Linked DNA regions of Homo sapiens: all the other regions are linked to region 3. The links come from fine-mapping of genetic effects on gene expression. A gene starts in region 3. Each other region holds a variant in brackets. All regions are shown on one strand. Distances are between the middles of the regions. Region 1 overlaps PACSIN2 (protein kinase C and casein kinase substrate in neurons 2). Region 2 overlaps MPPED1 (metallophosphoesterase domain containing 1). Region 3 holds the start of ARFGAP3 (ARF GTPase activating protein 3). Region 4 overlaps PACSIN2 (protein kinase C and casein kinase substrate in neurons 2).

Region 1 (5,000 bases), 120 kb before region 3:
AGGACAATAGTGGAGGGAAGGTCAGCAGATAAACAAGTGAACAAAGGTCTCTGGTTTTCCTAGGCAGAGGACCCTGCAGCCTTCCGCAGTGTTTGTGTCCCTGGGTACTTAAGATTAGGGAGTGGTGATGACTCTTAACGAGCATGCTGCCTTCAAGCATCTGTTTAACAAAGCACATCTTGCACCGCCCTTAATCCATTTAACCCTGAGTGACACAGCACATGTTTCAGAGAGCACAGGGTTGGGGATAAGGTCACAGATCAACAGATCCCAAGGCAGAAGAATTTTTCTTAGTACAGAACAAAATGAAAAGTCTCCCATGTCTACTTCTATCCACACAGACCCGGCAACCATCCGATTTCTCAATTTTTTCCCCACCCTTCCCGCCTTTCTATTCCACAAAACCGCCATTGTCATCATGGCCCATCCCCAATGAGCCGCTGGGCACACCTCCCAGACGGGGTCGTGGCCGGGCAGAGGGGCTCCTCACTTCCCAGTAGGGGCGGCCGGGCAGAAGCGCCCCTCACCTCCCGGATGGGGCGGCTGGCCGGGCGGGGGGCTGACCCCCCCACCACCCTCCCGGACGGGGCGGCTGGCCAGGCAGAGGGGCTCCTCACTTCCCAGTAGGGGCGGCCGGGCAGAGGCGCCCCTCACCTCCTGGATAGGGCGGCTGGCCGGGCGGGGGGCTGTCCCCCCACCTCCCTCCCGGACGGGGCGGCTGGCCGGGCAGAGGGGTCCTCACTTCCCAGTAGGGGCGGCCGGGCAGAGGCGCCCCTCACCTCCCGGACGGGGCGGCCGGCCGGAAGGGGGGCTGACCCCCCCACCTCCCTCCCGGACGGGGCGGCTGGCCGGGCAGAGGGGCTCCTCACTTCCCAGTAGGGGCGGCCGGGCAGAGGCGCCCCTCACCTCCCGGACGGGGCGGCTGGCCAGGCGGGGGGCTGATCCCCCCACCTCCCTCCCGGACGGGGCGGCTGGCCGGGCGGGGGGCTGACCCCCCACCTCCCTCCCGGACTGGGCGGCTGGCCGGGCGGGGGGCTGACCCACCCACCTCCCTCCTGGACGGGGCGACTGGCCGGGCAGAGGGGCTCCTCACTTCCCAGTAGGGGCGGCCGGGCAGAGGAGCCCCTCACCTCCCGGACGGGGCGGCTGGCCGGGCGGGGGGCTGACCCCCCCACCTCCCTCCCGGACGGGGCGGCTGGCCGGGCAGAGGGGTCCTCACTTCCCAGTAGGGGCAGCCGGGCAGAGGCGCCCCTCACCTCCCGGACGGGGCGGCCGGCCGGGCGGGGGGCTGACCCCCCCACCTCCCTCCCGGACGGGGCGGCTGGCCGACCCCCCCCGCCGCCTCCCTCCCGGACGGGGCGGCTGGCCGGGCAGAGGGGCTCCTCACTTCCCAGTAGGGGCGGCCGGGCAGAGGCGCCCCTCACCTCCCGGACGGGGCGGCTGGTCGGGCGGGGGGCTGACCCCCCCCACCTCCCTCCCGGACGGGGTGGCTGCCGGGCGGAGACGCTCCTCACTTCCCAGACGGGGTGGTTGCCGGACGGAGGGGCTCCTCACTTCTCAGACGGGGCGGTTGCCAGGCAGAGGGTTTCCTCACTTCTCAGACGGAGCGGCCGGGCAGAGACGCTCCTCACCTCCCAGACAGGGTTGCGGCCCAGCAGAGGCGCTCCTCACATCCCAGACAGGGCGGTGGGGCAGAGGTGCTCCCCACATCTCAGACGATGGGCGGCCGGGCAGAGACGTTCCTCACTTCCTAGATGGGATGGCGGCGGGGAAGAGGCGCTCCTCGCTTCCTAGATGGGATGGCGGCCGGGCAGAGACGCTCCTCACTTTCCAGACTGGGCAGCCAGGCAGAGGGGCTCCTCATATCCCAGACGATGGGTGGCCAAGCAGAGACGCTCCTCACTTCCCAGACGGGGTGGCGGCCGGGCAGAGGCTGCAATCTCGGCTCTTTGGGAGGCCAAGGCAGGCGGCTGGGAGGTGGTTGTAGCGAGCCGAGATCACGCCACTGCACTCCAGCCTGGGCACCATTGAGCACTGAGTGAACGAGACTCCATCTGCAATCCCGGCACCTCGGGAGGCCGAGGCTGGCGGATCACTCGCGGTTAGGAGCTGGAGACCAGCCCGGCCAACACAGCGAAACCCCGTCTCCACCAAAAAAAAACGAAAACCAGTCAGGCGTGGCGGCGCGCGCCTGCAATCGCAGGCACTCGGCAGGCTGAGGCAGGAGAATCAGGCAGGGAGGTTGCAGTGAGCCGAGATGGCAGCAGTACCGTCCAGCTTTGGCTCGGCATCAGAGGGAGACCGTGGAGGGAGAGGGAGAGGGGGAGGGGGAGGGGGAGAGGGAGAGGGAGAGGGTTGTTTGTTTTTTTGAGGGAGGGTCTCTCTCTGTCGCCCAGGCTGGAGTGTCGTGGTGTGATCATGCAGCCTTGACCTCCTAATGACCATGACAAGCTAGTGTTTTTGATTTTTAGTAGAGACAAGGTCCTGCCATGTTGTTCAGGCTGTTCTTGAACTCTTGGGCTCAAGCAGTCCTCATGCCTTGGCCTCTCAAAGTGCTGGGATTATAGGCATGAGCTACTGTGTGTGGCCATTAATTAATTTAATTAATTTTCTTAATGACAATTGAGAACTTAGAAGCAACATGAATGTGGAATTATAGATTTTAC[A/G]AATTTTCACCCAATACTCTATACTTGTTTTGCCATACCTATAATTTAGTTAGCAGATTGTTTCTTTCTTTCTTTTTTTTTTAATTAACAACTTGTTTTAATAGAAACTTGTTTTAATAGTTTTAATGGAAACAATGATGCGCTTATTTCATAGGTTTATATAGTTAAGCATGTATGTGTATTTATACTATATGTGTATTGTATGTATGTGCGTATGTGTAATAAATGTGTGTATGTAAATTTACAATGACAAGTACAGTTGGCATAAGCAGGGGTTTGCAGACAAACGTGTTTCAGCACACTGGGCAACATATCAGTCTGTAGCATGTGGTCAGGATGCAAGGGGGATCCGTTAATCCATTAATAACTTAGGGATTTTGTCCTCAGGAATCTCCCAGCCTAGAGGAGGCAATGTCTGTGTTTAAATAACTATAACCCAAGTTAGAAAGCGGCAGGTGCCTTAAGACAGAGCATATACTCCCAGGAGGAAGGAGCCAGAGAATTCATAGAGAAGGAGGTATCTGACCTGGGCCAATTACTTCTTTCTTTGTTTTTTGACTGTTTTTATATTTAGTTAAATATCTGTATATTTCTTTTTTCTTTTCTTTCCTTTTTTTTTTTTTTTTTTTTTGAGAGGGAGTCTTGCTTTGTTGCCTAGGCTGGAGTGCAGTGGCATGATCTCGGCTCACTGCAACCTCCACCTCCCATGTTCAAGTGATTCCCATGCCTCAGCCTTTGGAGTAGCTGGGATTACAGACGCCTGCTACCACGCTTGGCTAATTTTTGTATTTTTAGTAGAGATGGGGTTTCACCATGTTGACCAGGCTGGTCTCAAACTCCCGATCTTAGGTGATCCACCTGCCTCTGCCTCCCAAAGTGCTGAGATTGCAGGCATGAGCCACCGCACCTGGCCAAATATCTCTATATTTCTGTAAATCTATAAATAAAAACACAAACAGATGAACCATCATTGGGCCTTGGGCAGTGGTATGGACATTTGAATTGTTTTTGAAGTTTCTATGTCTCAGCCAGTACAGGTGCTGGCTGTTTCTCCTAGGCAATGGAGCTTTGTAGTACCCCTGTTGTCTGTGCTATACTGCAGGGGGATTGGTCAACAGGATGCATTCCTTTCTGTCACAGTTCATTATACTGGTCAGAGTTCTGAGGTCACCAGCTAACCTGAGCATAATCAGTTCCTTGGAAGACATTGGGTGGAGTGACCTCATAGACTCATAGGAAACCTGAAAAGAAGCCAGGGGAGAAACAATTGTTTTGAAGGAGTAGGGAGATTTCCCAAAGCCCAGCTGGAATGCTGTTGCCAGGAGGAGGAACCAGTTAAGGGGCAGGGACCAGCCTTTTTGGAAATGCTTTGTAGAATGCCCTAGGGAAGAGGAAATACATAAACCAAGGGCCAGGATGCAAACATACTTTTGAATATGTCTCAGATCTGAGTCCACCTGAACGTCTGCAGGCCAAAAAGCATAGCACATCATTCATAGGAACTCCAGAAATGTTGCCCGACTGCCTCCCACAACTTACCGTCAGTGCGGGCATGGAAACCTTCCTGCTTTCTGCTCTGTGTGGGTGGGTGAATGTGAGTGAGGAGAAACACTGTCATCTGGGAGTGAAGAGCCCAGCTTTGCAGTCATTCAGCAGGATGAGGGTGGACTTTTGGCTCTGCCACCAACGCAGTGTGGGCCCTGTGCTCTTCTTGTGTTGCGTGTAAACGAAGACTGATATTTTCTGTTAGATTTCTCAGCGTTATAGGTTATTGGATTTGTTACTGTGTGCTCATGCCAAGAGAAACAGAAGATGTATAAACAGCTAGGTGGTAATCAACTGTTGACTGCTTGTTGTAGCAGAGCCTTCCACAACTTTCTCCTGACCCTCACAAATGCATGTTTTAAAAAAAGAGAGGGACCTATTGTAGGCATTATTCAGCAACTTGTTATTTTCACTTCTCTTGAGCTTACACACCCCTGAATTTAAGCTCTTTTGATAACAAATAATTGAAAAAAGTGCATGGCAGGTTGTAGGTGCTCATTGTGGGATGAATGAATGAATGAGCCAGTGAGTGAGTGTTGTACTCTGGATCTCTCTCCAGGTCAGTAGTTTTTAGTAGTTATGTCACACTGAATTGCTCTAGTCTTTTTCAGACTTGTACTAGCAATGTATGAGTACCCCTGTATTAGTTCGTTCTCACATTGCTATAAAGAACCACCTGAGACTGGGTGATTTATGAAGAAAAGAGGTTTAATTGACTCAGTTTCACAGGCTTAGCAGGAAGCATGGCTAGGAGGCCTCAGGAAACTACAATCATGGTGGAAGGGGAAG
Region 2 (5,000 bases), 640 kb before region 3:
ATGGTGGGTTTCTGGAGGTGGCGGTGGGAGCAAGACACTGATATGGGCCGAACTGCTGGGAGACTGAACTTCATTCAGAGGACTGAGGGAACCACAGAGGGTCACAGAGGGGTGGCATGGCACACATAAGGATACAGAAAACTCCCTCCTGCTGATGTAAAGCGAGTGGACTGGAAGGGGCAAGACCTTCGCCTCCACCACCTCCACCACCTCCGTCACCACCTCCACCACCACCTCCATTACCACCTCCATCACCACCACTACCACCTCCATCACCATCACCACCACCACCCCCATCACCACCTCCATCACCATCACCACCACCACCTCCACCACCACCATCACCACCTCCATCACCATCACCACCACCACCCCCATCACCACCGCCACCTCCATCACCATCACCACCATCATCACTGCCACCTCCATCACCACCTCCACCATCACCCCCACCACCTCCATTACCACCTCCATCACCATCACCACCACCTCCATCACCATCACCACCACCACCCCCACCACCTCCATTACCACCTCCATCACCACCTTCATCACCCCCACTACCACCTCCATCGCCATCACCACCACCTCCATCACCATCACCACCACCACCCCCATCACCACCTCCCTCACCACCACCACCACCTCCACCATCACCACCGCCACCTCCATCACCATCACCACCACCACCCCCATCACCACCTCCATCACCACCACCACCACCACCTCCACCATCACCACCACCACCTCCATCACCATCACCACCACCACCCCCATCACCACCTCCATCACCACCACCACCACCTCCACCATCACCACCACCACCTCCATCACCATCACCACCACCACCCCCATCACCACCTCCATCACCACCACCACCACCTCCACCATCACCACCGCCACCTCCATCACCATCACCACCACCACCCCCATCACCACCTCCATCACCACCACCATCATCACCTCCACCACCACCATCACCACCATCACCCCCATCACCGCCACCCCCATCACCACCACCACCACCTCCACCATCATCACCACCACCATCACCACCACCACCACCTCCACTACCACCACCACCTCCACTACCACCACCACCACCTCCACCACCACCCACCATCACCACCACCTCCATCACCACCACCATCACCTCCATTACCACCATCACCACCCCCATAACCACCACCACCACCTCCATCACCATCACTACCTCCCACCACCACCACCTCCCACATCACCACCACTTCTATCACCACCACCATCACATCCATCACCACCCCCATCACCATCACCACCACCTCCATCACCATCACTACCTCCCACCACCACCACCTCCCACGTCACCACTTCTATCACCACCACCATCACATCCATCACCACCCCCATCACCATCACCACCACCTCCATCACCACCACCACCCCATCCCCACTGCCACTACCTCTATGACTATCACCACCTCCCACCACCACCACCACCATCTCCACCTCCCACCATCACCTCCGTCACCACCATCACCTTCATCACCACCACCTTCATCACCTCCACCACCATCACCACCTCCACCACCACCACCTCCACCATCACCACCTCCATCACCACTACCTCCATCACCACCACCTCCACCATGACCATGGGAGAGAGAGAGAAGACATTGTCCTGGACTGAGGCAGGGTCAGCAGCTTGAAGAGAAGGGGGAGTGGGAGGCAGTTTGGAGGTGGAATGGGAGGGATGTGGTGATGGCCAGGCTGTGGGAATGAGGAAAGGAAGGGAACTGAGAGAGCCCCCAGATGGGACAGTAGGGGTGGAGGAGGCAGTATGCAGATGAGGGGATGACCTCAGTGTGGATTGGGTGGTGGGGTGGGGGCAGAGAGGAGAGATGGGAGGTGGTCTACAGGCCCTGGGGATGTTGGGCTGGGTGGGGGTGAGGAAGTGGGGACCCCAGGTTTCTGAGGGAGTTAGGGCTGCCCGGAGGAAGCCCTGTGCAGGGCTCTGGTGATTTTCAGCACCCGGGACTGGGGTCTGCAGAGGCATAAGCCGAAGCTCCAGGGTCCCACCTGTCAAATGGGCAGGTGATTCTG[G/A]CCTCCTGTGCTGTTGTGAGGAGCCCACAAGATAACAAGTCAAGCCCCCTGCTCTCAGTGGGCACTCAGGAAATAAGAGGGACCATGGGGCGACGTGTCCTCAGTGCCCCAGCAAGTGGGACTCAGAACCCCTCCAGGGCTCCCCTATACAGGCCCAGCCAGCCCCCCATCCCAGAGCCCACCCACCAGCCCAGATGGGCGAGCTGGAGGGCCAGGCCAGCAGAGCCTTACCCAGTGGTGGTCCATGGGTTATCAGGATGTCTACGCCTTCGGGAATGAGGTTCCATTTCTCCAGCAGGGCTTGGCCTCGCGGGAGGTTGAAGCCCCAGCCGTAGAACCAGGGCTGCCTGTAGAAGAAGTGCAGGTGTTTGAGGGAGGGCGGGTGAAAGTACAGGGTGGTCAGAGGGAATGCGGAGCTCCCCACGGGCCAGGGGGCCCTCAGGACCAGCTCGCTACCTGGAGACCCAGGGAAGGTCTCCACCTAGGGAAGGCAGGGACTCACCAGGACTTTGACCCACTGGCGGTCTGTGGGTCCCCAGGCAATTCTCTTTCCTCTCTCCTTCTGCTTACCTGCAGTTTCTGTTTTTCTGTAAGTATTATTTACATAACCAAAAAAAAAAGAAAGCTAAATACATATATATATATACATATACATATATATATCAGCTTCTTCCTAAGACCTTTCCTGCTCCAAGCCTTTCTAAGAAAATCCACAGGGAACATTATACATTCTCCAATACTCCCACCCCCACCCCCAGGAAGATGCCCCTCCATCCTCCCTCCCCCAGGTGGGGTGTGTGGACCCCCAGTCAAAAGAGAGCAGATTCCAGGTGCGGGCTGCTCATTCTTGCTTATACTGGAAGCTCTGGCCAGGGAGTCCAGGTAGAGTTGAGCCCATCCCCAGCTGGGAGGGTGGGGCCAGGTGGACCTAGACCATTATACGCAATCCCAGCCTGGTAGCCTGCTCCCCAGCCAAGACCTGGACCCATCAATGCCAGATATTCCCCCTAGTCAGTTCAGTGGTGAACACATCACCTAGATCCTTCCAATTGCAGGCAGTCTCTTTTCAAGAAGAAAAGTGGATACTATCATCCCTGTGTATAAACAGTGAGCTTCTAGCCTTGGGAGCTGTGGGCAGCTGTCGGCAGCTGTTAAGTTACCCAAGAAACAGCTGGATCAAACTGGACCAGACACCCACCCTACCTCAGCACTTCCCAATTATACGGGCCAACACAAAGCCATTTGAACTGGGTTTTCAGTCATTTGCAACAAAAGCATCAGAATCATCCCGTAGGTTTCACCCATACATGATTCCACAAGAATGGGCCCTTTATGTCAATAAAGTAACCAGCATCACCACCTCCAACACCGCCACCTCCACCATCACTAGCACTTCTACCATCAACAGCACTTCCACCACCACCTCCATTACTAGTACCTCCTCCACCACCACCACGTCCATCACCACCTCCATCACCACCATCTCCGCCACCACTACCTCCACCACCACCTCCACCACCACCATCTCCACCACCACTACCTCCACCACCACCACTTCCACCACCACTACCTCCACCACCACCACCTCCACCACCACTACCTCCACCACCACTACCTCCACCACCACCACCTCCACCACCACTACCTCCACCACCACCACCTCCACCACCACCACCTCCACCACCACCACCTCCACCACCACCATCTCCACCACCACTACCTCCACCACCACTACCACCACCACCACCTCCACCACCACCACCTCCACCACCACCACCTCCGCCACCACCACCTCCACCACCACCTCCACCACCACCATCACCACCACCACTACCTCCACCACCACCACTTCCACCACCACTACCACCACCACCACCACCACCACCACCACCACCACCACCATCTCCACCACCACTACCTCCACCACCACCACCTCCACCACCACCATCTCCACCACCATCTCCACCACCACTACCTCCACCACCACCATCTCCACCACCACCACCACCATCTCCACCACCACTATCTCCACCACCACCATCTCCACCACCACCATCTCCACCACCATCTCCACCACCACTACCTCCACCACCACCATCTCCACCACCACCACCACCATCTCCACCACCACTACCTCCACCACCACCACCTCCACCACCACCACCTCCATCACCACCTCCACCACCACCATCTCCACCACCACTACCTCCACCACCACCACCTCCACCACCACCACCTCCATCACCACCTCCATCACCACCATCTCCGCCACCACTACCTCCACCACCACCTCCACCACCACCATCTCCACCACCACTACCTCCACCACCACCTCCACCACCACCTCCACCACCACCATCTCCACCACCACTACCTCCACCACCACTACCTCCACCACCACCTCCACCATCACCACCTCCACCACCACCACCTCCACCATCACCACCTCCACCACCACCACCTCCACCACCACCATCTCCACCACCACTACCTCCACCACCACTACCTCCACCACCACCTCCACCATCACCACCTCCACCACCACCACCTCCACCATCACCACCTCCACCACCACCATCTCCACCACCACCACCATCTCCACCACCACCATCTCCACCACCACCACCTCCACCACCACTACCTCCACCATCACCTCCACCACCACTACCTCCACCACCACCATCTCCACCACCACTACCTCCACCACCACCATCTCCACCACCACCACCACCATCTCCACCACCACTACCTCCACCACCACCACCTCCACCACCACCACCTCCATCACCACCTCCACCACCACCATCTCCACCACCACCACCACCATCTCCACCACCACTACCTCCACCACCACCACCTCCACCACCACCACCTCCATCACCACCTCCACCACCACCATCTCCACCACCACCACCTCC
Region 3 (5,000 bases):
AAAAAAAAAAAAAAAAAAAAAAATTAGCCAGGCATGGTTGCGGGCGCCTATAATCCCAGCTACTCAGGAGGCTGAGGCAGGAGACTCGGCTGAACCTGGGAGGCAGAGGTTGCAGTGCGTCAGGATCACACCACTGCACTCCGGCGAGACTCCTCAAAAGAAAAAGGAGAAAAAACATTTGATTTCAAGAAATATATATATATATATATATATATATATATATATATATTTTTTTTTTTTTTTTTTGAGACAGAGTCCCGCTCTGTCGCCTAGGCTGGAGTGCAGTGGTGTGATCTCGGCTCACTGCAACCTCTGCTTCCCAGATTCAAGCGATTCTCCTGCCTCAGCCTCTGAGTAGTTGGGATTACAGGTGCCCACCACCATGCCTGGCTAATTTTTGTATTTTTAGTAGAGATGGGGTTTCACCATGTTGGTCAGGCTGGTCTCGAACTCCTGACCTCATGATCCACCCACCTCAGCTTCCCAAAGTGCTGGGATTACAGGTGTGAGGCACCGCCCCCGGCCAGAAATATATATTTTTGTATTCAATTAGAGCCAGATAACATATAGATAGAATATTATATGTTATAGTATTAGATGCTAAGTTCTATGAAGAACACTTAAGCAACCATAGTGTATAAATGGTACCTCCTACCCCTTCCTCCCCTATTCGTGTAGATACTGTCTATAATTTACTGCTTTTGTTTCCCTCTCCTCAATCTCTATGGTGGAGAATGGGCTAGACTGCACTACTCTGATAATATAACTTAGTAAGATTTCAGCTCCAAGTAGTAAATGGGACCATCATTCCCATTCCCATCAGGAAGGATAAAACTGCTCATAAACATGCCCGGTATTCTGCATAAGGCCAAACTAGTACCCGGTGGACACAAAGCACAGGTGTTATACTTCGACTCAATACAGGAAGAACTTTTAAACCATCAGAGCTACCTGCAAAAGTAATGTACTTTTCTGGAAGATAATCAATTTCCCTTTCTTGGAAAAGTTGCAGCTTTGGGTTTATAAGTTACATTGTCTGCAAGCTCCCAACTGCCACCGAGGGTCTCCAAGCAGATAGGTGGAGTGTACATTTCCTGACTTCTAACAGTAGAAAGCCTCCACCAAAGGCTCTTCAGGATATCCCTAGGAAGCTGCTCACCTGTGCTACTCAGCACTGATTCTTTAATTTCTTTGTACAGATGAATAAACCATGGTTTATTTTATTTTACTTTTTGAGACAGGGTCTTGGTCTGTCGCCCATGCTGGAGTGCAGTGGTGCGATCTTGGCTCACTGCAGCCTCGACCTCCTGGACTAAAGCGATCCTCCCACCTCAGCCTCCCAAGTAGCTAGGACTACAGGCCCATGCCAGCATGCCCGGCTAATTTTTGCATTTTTTTATAGAGACGGGGTTTCACCATATTATCCAGTCTGGTCTTGAACTCCTGAGCTCAAGTGATCCTCCCGCCTCAGCCTCCCAAAGTGCTGGGATCACAGGCATGAGCCCCTGAGACTGCAAATAAACCATGCTTTAGAGAAGGTAAGTGTCTTGACCAAGGCCACAGAGCTAGGAAGCAGCTGGCTGAACTGGGATTGAGGCCAAGGTAGTGCCTTTGATGCCAAAACCTGCTGTCCTTCCTCACTATCACCCAACCTCTTTCCAGTGGCTCCACACCCATTGTGGTGACAGAGGCACCTTCTGCTGAGTGTAAACTCTTCTGGCTGGAATTGTTTCCCAGAGGGTAGGGTGCAGCCCCGAGGGCCGGGGTTAAAAGTCAAGCTTCTCATCTGGACTCATCAGTTCTGACTGAGCACTTCTGCCTCAACCCGCACTGCCATCTCTCCATGAACGTGACACAAAAGCCCTTGGTTTCAGAAAGCCAGTTTCCGGGCAAAGAAAGCTTTCCACCCAGGGCCTGGCGTGAGCTGAGGGCAAGAATTAAAAAGAGTCGGGCGCGGCGGCTCACGTCTGTAATCCCAGCAATTTGGAAGGCCGAAGTGGGTGGATCACCTGAAGTCAGGAGTTCGAGACCAGCCTGGGCAACATGGTGAAACCCTGGTCTCTACTAAAAATACAAAAATTAGCCGGGCGTGGTGATGTACGCCTGTAATCCCACCTACTCGGGAGGCTGAGGCAGGAGAATCGCTTGAACCAGGGAGGTTGCAAGGAGCCGCAATCGCGCCATTACACTCCAGCCTGGGGGACAGAGCGAGGCTCCGTCTCAAAAAAAAAAAAAAAAAAAGGGAAGGCCACCAGCTAAGGTCCGGCGTCAAGGCACGGGCCCTCCGTCCGTCTCGTGCCGAAGGAGGGCGCGTGCGCCCCTTCCCCTGCCTCTGACCTTTCCATGGAAGCAGCCCGTTAGGCGAAATGGCGATCGACCAGGCGAAACGTTGGTGGATCCTATGGCAGCGCGCGTGGCAGGCAGCCACACCCGGGCCCGGCTTCGCCCAGCGCTAAGGGCGTGGAGCCGCGCCGCAAATGGCGCGCGAGCCTCCTGCGCACGCGCGTGCAGCGCCTGGGGTCGGGCCAGCGGCGCGGCTGAAGCGAGGGCGGGGAGGGAAAGCGAGCGGCGCCTGCGCCCCGGCGGTGGACGGGCCCGGTCGTGGGCGGGGATTGGGGCGGAGCCTGACCGTTACGCGCAGCCCCGCCCCCGCGGCCTCGTCGCTCCTGCTGAGGCGGTAGCCGCTTTTCGTCGACTCTTACCGGTTGGCTGGGCCAGCTGCGCCGCGGCTCACAGCTGACGATGGGGGACCCCAGCAAGCAGGACATCTTGACCATCTTCAAGCGCCTCCGCTCGGTGCCCACTAACAAGGTAGCGGCCGCGGGCGAGTGCGGGCCTGCCTGGCATCCCTGCGGGAACCGGCGGGAGGCCCCGCGGGCGCCAGTGCCCGTGGCTTGGGAGGCGGGGCCGGCGCGGCCTGTGACACGTCGCACTGTGGGGCCGCGGCAGCCTGGCCGGGCCGGGGCGGGCGGGGCCGGGCAGCTGAGAGGCCCGGGCGGGAGGCCGCAGCGCGGGGGTCCTCACGCGAGCCGGGGAGCGTTCCCGGGGGCGGCGGCGCGGGCACACCCCCCGGCGAGCTCTTGGGGCGGGGGGCGAGCACCGGCGGCTCTGAGCGGAGGCGGGGGCGGGGGCATCCTCGGGGGCGCTGCGAGGAGGGAGCTCCCGGCTCGGAAACCCCGGCTGCTGGCGCCGGATGCGGGGAAAGCGCGGCTCCCCCAGCGCCACCCTGGAGCTCGACCCCGCCTGTTGGAGCCGGCTTGGCTCCTCGGGCCTTGCGGTGCCTGCCTCAGTTTCTCTTCTGATAAAGTTGCCGAGTAGTCTACGCTTTGGCTTCCAGCTTTTGTCGCTTTGGCCAGGGAGGCTCACCACAGCCTCCTCCCTCTCCTCGGTTCTCTTTGGAGATGGAGGTTTCCTTTTTTTTTTTGTCTCCAGAGGCTGTTCTCTCCCTGGAACTTTTACAGCTTTGCGCAGCTGGCTGGAGGCGTTGGGGTGACGCAGGGGGCTAAGGTGACACGTCGGGTCGGAGAGGGACTTGGAGAGTGCAAAGGGCTGTCGCGTCAGCGTGGGCTCTCCCCGCCCCTCCTGTGACACGAGTGTTGTCTGGTTCCCACTGTCACTTCCCGAAGGGAACAGCTGTTATTGAACCTCGATATGCTGGCATAGAAAGTTCCCGAGTGTTACAAAATAGGTGTTTCTGTTGGTTTTAAGTCTTGATGGTACAGGGGAGCCCATATTTTTTCCAGCCTAGGTGAGGAAGGAAACAGTTTATTGGAGGTGATGTCTGATGGATGTGGGAAAGTTAAGAGAAAGGCTCCAGGAATTCTCCAGTGCCCGTTTCTTTACTGTTCTCTTGATTTTCACATTTTTATTTATTTATTTTTTTAGAGACAGGGTCTCACCCCGTCACCCAGGCTGAAGTGTAGTGCCTTGATCCTAGCTCACTGCAGCCTTGACCTACCCAGCCCAAGCCATCCTTCCTTCCCAGCCTCCTGATGAGGCTGACACCACAGGGCTGTACCACCACGCCCAGCTAATTGTTATTATTAATTAATTAATTAATTAATTTTTGTAGAGACAGGGTCTTGCTATGTTGCCCGTGCTGGTGTCAAATTCCTGGGCTCAAGCAGTCCTCCTGCCTCCTCCTGCCTTGGCCTCCCAGAGTGCTAGGATTACAGGCATGAGCCACCATGCTGGCCTTAATGTTCTTTTTTTTTTTTTTAACGTTTTAATTTTAATTTTTTTGAGACAGAGCCTTGCTCTGTCGCCCAGGCTGGAGTGCAGTGGTGCGATCTCAGCTCACTGCAACCTCTGCCTCCTGGGTTTGAGCAATTCTGCCTCAGCCTCCTGAGTCGCCAGGATTACAGGCATCCACCACTACACTCAAGTAATTTTTATATTTTTAGTAGAGACGAGGTTTCACCATGTCAGTCACTCTGGTCTCAAACTCCTGGCCTCAAGTGATCCACCCGCCTCGGCCTCCTGAAGTGCTGGGATTACAGGCGTGAGCCACCGCGCCCAGCCTTGATTTTTAAATTTAGATTGATGTGTTTATAAAGAGTGGGTCCTGTGTAACTTAGTCAAGATTAGGATCTGCGGTTAGCAATGTGTAAACTATATTTTTTTGTCACCTTTATCTCAGAAACATCAACATGTATTCTCTTTGATTTAATTCAAAGATAATTTTAAATTAGAAATCAATGTCTTTATATCAAGAGGCTTTTGAGAGACAGGCTTGTATTGTCCAAACTGCTACTTTCTAGGTATGTCACCCTTGGACAGGTTACTTGACCACTTTGTCCCTTTTTTCCTCCTCTGAAAATGGGGCATGAACTAGACCTGACTCAGAGGGTTATTGTGAAGATTAAATGGAATAATCCAAGAAAAACACTTAGAGTAGGAACTGCATATAATAGTCTTCAATAAATGGCAGCTGTTTTTATGATGAAGAACACACCTGTGAAAAATTTATATTCTGTAATAAGATTAATAAAAGCAATGAG
Region 4 (5,000 bases), 54 kb before region 3:
TTTAGGTTGTAGGAAGCCTGATTTACTTAACTTTGAGATTGTTTTTGGAAAACATCTTGGTGTAATGGAGAGAATATTACCTTAGCAAGCAGGCAGAGCTGGTGTCAAATACTAGTCTCCACCAGCCATTACTTGGACAACCGTGGGCAAATTACTGAACATCAATTGTCTTGACTTTAAAATAGAGACAGAAGTAATGATAGTAATCATAATTACTATGCAATAATAATAGTGGCAACAATAATTCATTATTTACTATGTTCGTAGCACTTACTAAGGGTGTATAACAGTACTTAGTAAGTTCGTAGCACTTACTAAGGGCCAAGTATTGTTCTAAGCTCTTGTATATATTTGACTTGCAGCAATTCTGTGTTGTAGGTTCCATTAGTGTCTCTCTTTTTTTTTTTTTTTTTTTTTTTTGGAGACGGAGTTTCGCTCTTGTTGCCCAGGCTGGAGTGCAATGGCACGATCTTGGCTGACCGCAACCTCCACCTCCCAGGTTCAAGCGATTCTCCTGCCTCAGCCTCCTGAGTAGCTGGGATTATAGGCACATGCCACCACGCTTGGCTAATTTTGTATTTTTAGTAGAGACGGGGTTTCTCCGTCTTGGTCAGGCTGGTCTTGAACTCCTGACCTCAGGTGATCCGCCCGCCTTGGCCTCCCAAAGTGCTGGGATTACAGGCATGAGCCACTGTGCCCGGCCTATTGTCTCTTTTTTCCAGATAAGGCAAGCGAGGCACAGAGAGGGTAGGTAACTTGCCCACTGTTGCCCACCTCATAAGTAATGGGTCTGGGATTTAAGCCTAGGTAGTCTGACTCTGGAGTCTGTGTTTCTTGCTCCAATTCCAGGCTGTGTCACAGAGAATCATGAAGATTCATGTGATTACATATGAAACAGGACCTAGAACAAAGTCTTGTGCCTTGTTGGTGCTCAAAACAAGTTGGCCATTCTGTCTCACCCCTTCCTGTTGCTAAGCTAAGGCTTTAGACTGTTGACTGTGGCAGTGAGGAAGGTCTTGGATCTCTGGCTGTGTGATCTGAACACAGGGTAAGGTAAAGAAAGGTGGGGTCACCTTTTTACCAAAAAGTCAGACAGTTTCATCTCGGCTGCGGACAGGTCATCACACTAGCAAGGTGTGGTTTGTGCTTATGGGAGTCCTTCAGTTTCTTCCCTCCAACAGGGGAAATAATTGCCGCCTTTACCCTTGCCTGGATTGTAGATTGCTGAGTCTGTTATTCAGAAGTGATCCATTTAGCTTTCCAGCTGAGCCACACACAGACAGTGTCAGAACAAACTGGTCTGAATTTGTGGCTTCAGTGGCGGAGTCAGTAAAGGTGGAGTTGAGTGGGGACAGTGCTCACACAAGTGGAATGTGGTAGCCACTCTGGAGAGGGGAGTAGGGTGTCAAAGGTGGGATTACCTCCACTCACGTTTTATCCCGGGTCCTAGCCCTACCAGTTAGGTAGAGTAGGTCGGGATGGGCAAGCCCAGAGATCCAAGGACTCTGCCTTTTATGCACATGCACCCCTCGCCCCCATCACCCACCATGCACACACACAGACATACACATATGTGCCCAGAGTTGATTAGAGTCTACTGGCTTTCTGCCACCTAAAGGAAATATTATAGACCGCCCTGTACTGAAGGCAGTGATTAGAAACGGGAAGTTGTGAAATAGAGATGACTTGTTTCTTTACCTTGGGAATTTAAAAACCACTATGTTATATGTTTTTCATTTATAGGTTTGTCTACAGATTTTGAGCGTTCGAAGTTGACCCCTGACTAAGTATACTTTGCTGCTCCCTCAGCCTTTGAAAAAATGTCTGTCACATATGATGATTCCGTTGGAGTAGAAGTGTCCAGCGACAGCTTCTGGGAGGTAATGCACCTGCTTTCTTCCAGTGAATGAAGTGGCCAGGCCAATAGTGTCTGGCAGGCCCTTTGGTTTTTTTGGTGGAGGTTGGGAACTGAGGTGAACATACCCCCAAACCAGCCATGCATTTGTAGTCAGACCTAGATAGCAGCAGAAAAGGTTTGGACACTTGTTTTTAGGCAGTTCAGGTATGCCTTAGCCATCATCGAAGGCAGTGAACTTACCTTGCTAGGAAAGGCTGATACTTAAAGAGGTTAGGGGTGTTTATGAAAGGTCTTGGGGATCACCTTCCTTTTTATGTTTGCCATGGTGTGAGTGGGAGAGACAGACACTAATTGCTCAGCTTATCCTACGAGGCACTTTACTGTTGAGTTTTATGTAGAAACAAGGAGGGCTGTGATTTGACATCATGCTGGACAACACAGGCAAGTGGCCAGAGGGCCAAATGCCTTCAAACTTGCTGGAGCATCTGCCGCCAGTCTGTACCCATGAGTGGCCCTCTTCCTGATTGGATTATTTTTGTTTTTTTGTGGAGGCGGAGGGTGTTGTTCCTGAGTCCCACTTACTTTTCCTTCCTGCTAGTTAATGGAAAGTCCATCTTTTTTTTTTTTTTTTTTTTAACAGTTGAGGTCTCGAGAGCGCAGGCTGGAGTTCAGTGGCACCATCATGGCTCACTGAAGCCTTGATCTCCTGGGCTCAAGCCATCCTCCCACCTCAGCCTACTGAGTAGCTGAGACTATAGGAAGTCAATTTTTGGTCTAATTTTGTCCCTGTGGCAAAACCCCTGGAGCTTTCTTGGCCTTCATGGAAAGAGGCTTTGCATGGCCGGGCGCAGTGGCTCATGTCTGTAACCCCAGCACTTTGGGAGGCCGAGGCGGGTGGATCTTGAGGTCAGGAGTTCAAGACCAGCCTGGCCAACATGGTGAAACCCCATCTCTACTAAAAATACAAAAAATTAGCTGGGCGTGGTGGTGGGCACCTGTAACCCCAGCTATTTGGGAGGCTGAGGCAGGAGAATGGCATGAACCCGGGAGGCGGAGCTTGCAGTGAGCCGAGACAGCGCCACTGCACTCCAGCCTGGG[T/C]GACAGAGCAAGACTCCGTCTCAAAAAAAAAAAAATTATGTGTTAACTGAGTACCTGTAGTGTGCTAGGCAAGGGATGTGACAGACTGAGTTCCTGCCCTCCAGAAGCTGGCTTCTGCCACAGCAGAAATAAATGTGGAAAGGCACAGAGCATGCAGGTCCTCTCTGCTGCCACCCCTCGGCTGGTGGCATCCTTCTGGAGGGGTGAGGGGGGCACCCAGCTCAAATTTCAGCAGCCGGAGAGGCACATCTGCCTGAGAAATATTTCACTTAAGACAGCAAGAGTGACAGGAGCAGTGACAGCCAAACAGGTCGCCAGCCACATCTCACAGCATGGCAGGAGGTTGGCCGTGAAACTAGATGAAGCAGGACCAGCAGTTACACGACGTGGTTTGGAGGTGCCCCTGGAATAGTGCTAGAATTCAGGACTGCCTTTGCCCCCGCTTGCAGGTACAGGTTCACAGTAATCAGGTCCCGCTGGCTGGCCCCCCCAGAGAGGCTGTGGCCTCATTAGTGCAGGAGCGCTTATGGAGCTGGCAGCAGCTGTGAGAGCCTTCCTGTGAGCTCTCCAGCCTTTAGAAGTGCAGGCCCTTGTTCTCAACACTGAACCAAAACTATAGATAGAAACCTTTCCAGTTATGGGGAGCCTCTTTTTTGTAACTGTAGTGACATTGCTGGCTGGCACCAATCATTCCCTGCCTTGAGCTTGGTGGTGGTGCAGACAGGACAAGCACACTCAAAAGGCCCTTCCTTGTGAGGGATAGGCCAGGAGAGGCAATGGGGACAGGTGAAGACATTGCTTTGGAGCCAGGAGGTCTGGGTTTGACTGCTGACCTGATCACTTACTTCTGTGTATGGCTTTGGGCAAGTTACTGATTTTTCTTTGCCTTCATTTCCCAATCTATAAGATGGGGGTAATAACGGTACCCATATCCTAGTATTGTGAGGGTTAAAAGAATGAATAAACGTTAAGTGTTTTAGGGCATCAGGGCAAGGCTGGTGGGGGCCCTTCCCTCTGACACGGGAGCTGAGGGAGTCGGTGTGCACAGTCAATGTCTGTTCCTGCGGTGCCCTTGGCGACATTGTCTTCATTACCCACTTGGTGGCAGAAACTGCTGGGAAAATTATGTAGCTAAATATAGTGCTATTACAGAATTCTTCAGCTGCTTGTTAAAAAACATTCAGGTGAACGTTGCCAGTGTATATTGTCAGCATATATTAAATCAACTAGCTTTAACAAGTCCAGTAATTAAGCTCTTATGCTCCCTGTTAAATTCTCAACTGCAATAATGTCAGTAGACAAGAACATCTCCTTTTGCCTGAAAATGCTCAGGCGGGCTCTGCTCAGCTTGTGATGCTGTCCCTGAAATTACTCTCCAGCTGGTATCAACTCCGCAGTGCTGTGGTCGTCCGCCTTCTCCATGACGGATGTTCGTTGAGTGGCGGAGTGACTGCTCAGTGATGGCCTGCTGGGATCTGAGAGACTCAGGTGCACACTGCCAACTGCACATCTTCCCAGGCAGGTAGCAAGTTCCTCTTTCCCATGGAAGGACACTTTTCCAAAGAAAGCCTTGTGGTCTTGAGGTGGAAAAGTTTTTTGTGTTTAATTTTACTCCTTCCCACCAAAAGATACTAACTGGAATATGTCATTCCAGAGCCATCTTCTGTGTGGCCCTGTCCTCCAGGAGCCTTTGGCTGTGACATTTGGAGGAATAAGGTAGACACTAGGCAGGTCATCATGCCAGGTGCCGTAGGATTTGCTAGGTTTGCCCAGGGGGAAGGGCAGGAAAGGCAGCATGGGGTAGTGGACGTTGCTGCACTTGGATGCTTGCTGGACGAATGAAGGAACCCATACTGACCTGTGGGAGGAGAGGTTACCCACAGGGACATGATACTGAATAGAGCTATTTAATGCATATTCGGAAGGAGTACCTCCTGCATTCCCCCAACCCTGTAGATATAGGGGAAAAATAAAAAGAGGAAGAGGGGAGAGGGGATCCAGTTCCCACAAAGAAGATGCTTATGGAGTATGAGAGCAGGAGGGA

What was found. PIP is the estimated chance that this variant, and not a neighbour inherited with it, causes the effect. A credible set is the group of variants that fine-mapping cannot tell apart.
Region 1: its variant is the best candidate, but not a certain one, in a credible set for the expression of ARFGAP3 in whole blood (TOPMed, PIP 0.59).
Region 2: its variant is the best candidate, but not a certain one, in a credible set for the expression of ARFGAP3 in substantia nigra (GTEx, PIP 0.85).
Region 4: its variant is the best candidate, but not a certain one, in a credible set for the expression of ARFGAP3 in whole blood (TOPMed, PIP 0.79).

The regions. Positions count from the first base shown.
Region 1 is chr22:42,977,821-42,982,820 of GRCh38, reverse strand. All of the region lies in intron 1 of PACSIN2 (protein kinase C and casein kinase substrate in neurons 2), which reads left to right. Among named protein-coding and RNA genes, the nearest start is that of PACSIN2, 35 kb to the left of the region's middle. The variant A/G (reference allele first, on the strand shown) is at 2,667.
Region 2 is chr22:43,495,664-43,500,663 of GRCh38, reverse strand. It overlaps MPPED1 (metallophosphoesterase domain containing 1), which reads right to left. Exons shown (of 7, transcript NM_001044370.2): 5 at 2,314-2,429. Among named protein-coding and RNA genes, the nearest start is that of EFCAB6-AS1, 18 kb to the left of the region's middle. The variant G/A (reference allele first, on the strand shown) is at 2,083.
Region 3 is chr22:42,854,925-42,859,924 of GRCh38, reverse strand. It overlaps ARFGAP3 (ARF GTPase activating protein 3), which reads left to right and starts at 2,652. Exons shown (of 16, transcript NM_014570.5): 1 at 2,652-2,811. The coding sequence starts at 2,743. RefSeq lists a silencer at 2,377-3,126 and an enhancer at 2,649-3,493.
Region 4 is chr22:42,908,901-42,913,900 of GRCh38, reverse strand. It overlaps PACSIN2 (protein kinase C and casein kinase substrate in neurons 2), which reads left to right. Exons shown (of 11, transcript NM_001184970.3): 2 at 1,744-1,880. The coding sequence starts at 1,821. Among named protein-coding and RNA genes, the nearest start is that of ARFGAP3, 54 kb to the right of the region's middle. The variant T/C (reference allele first, on the strand shown) is at 2,957.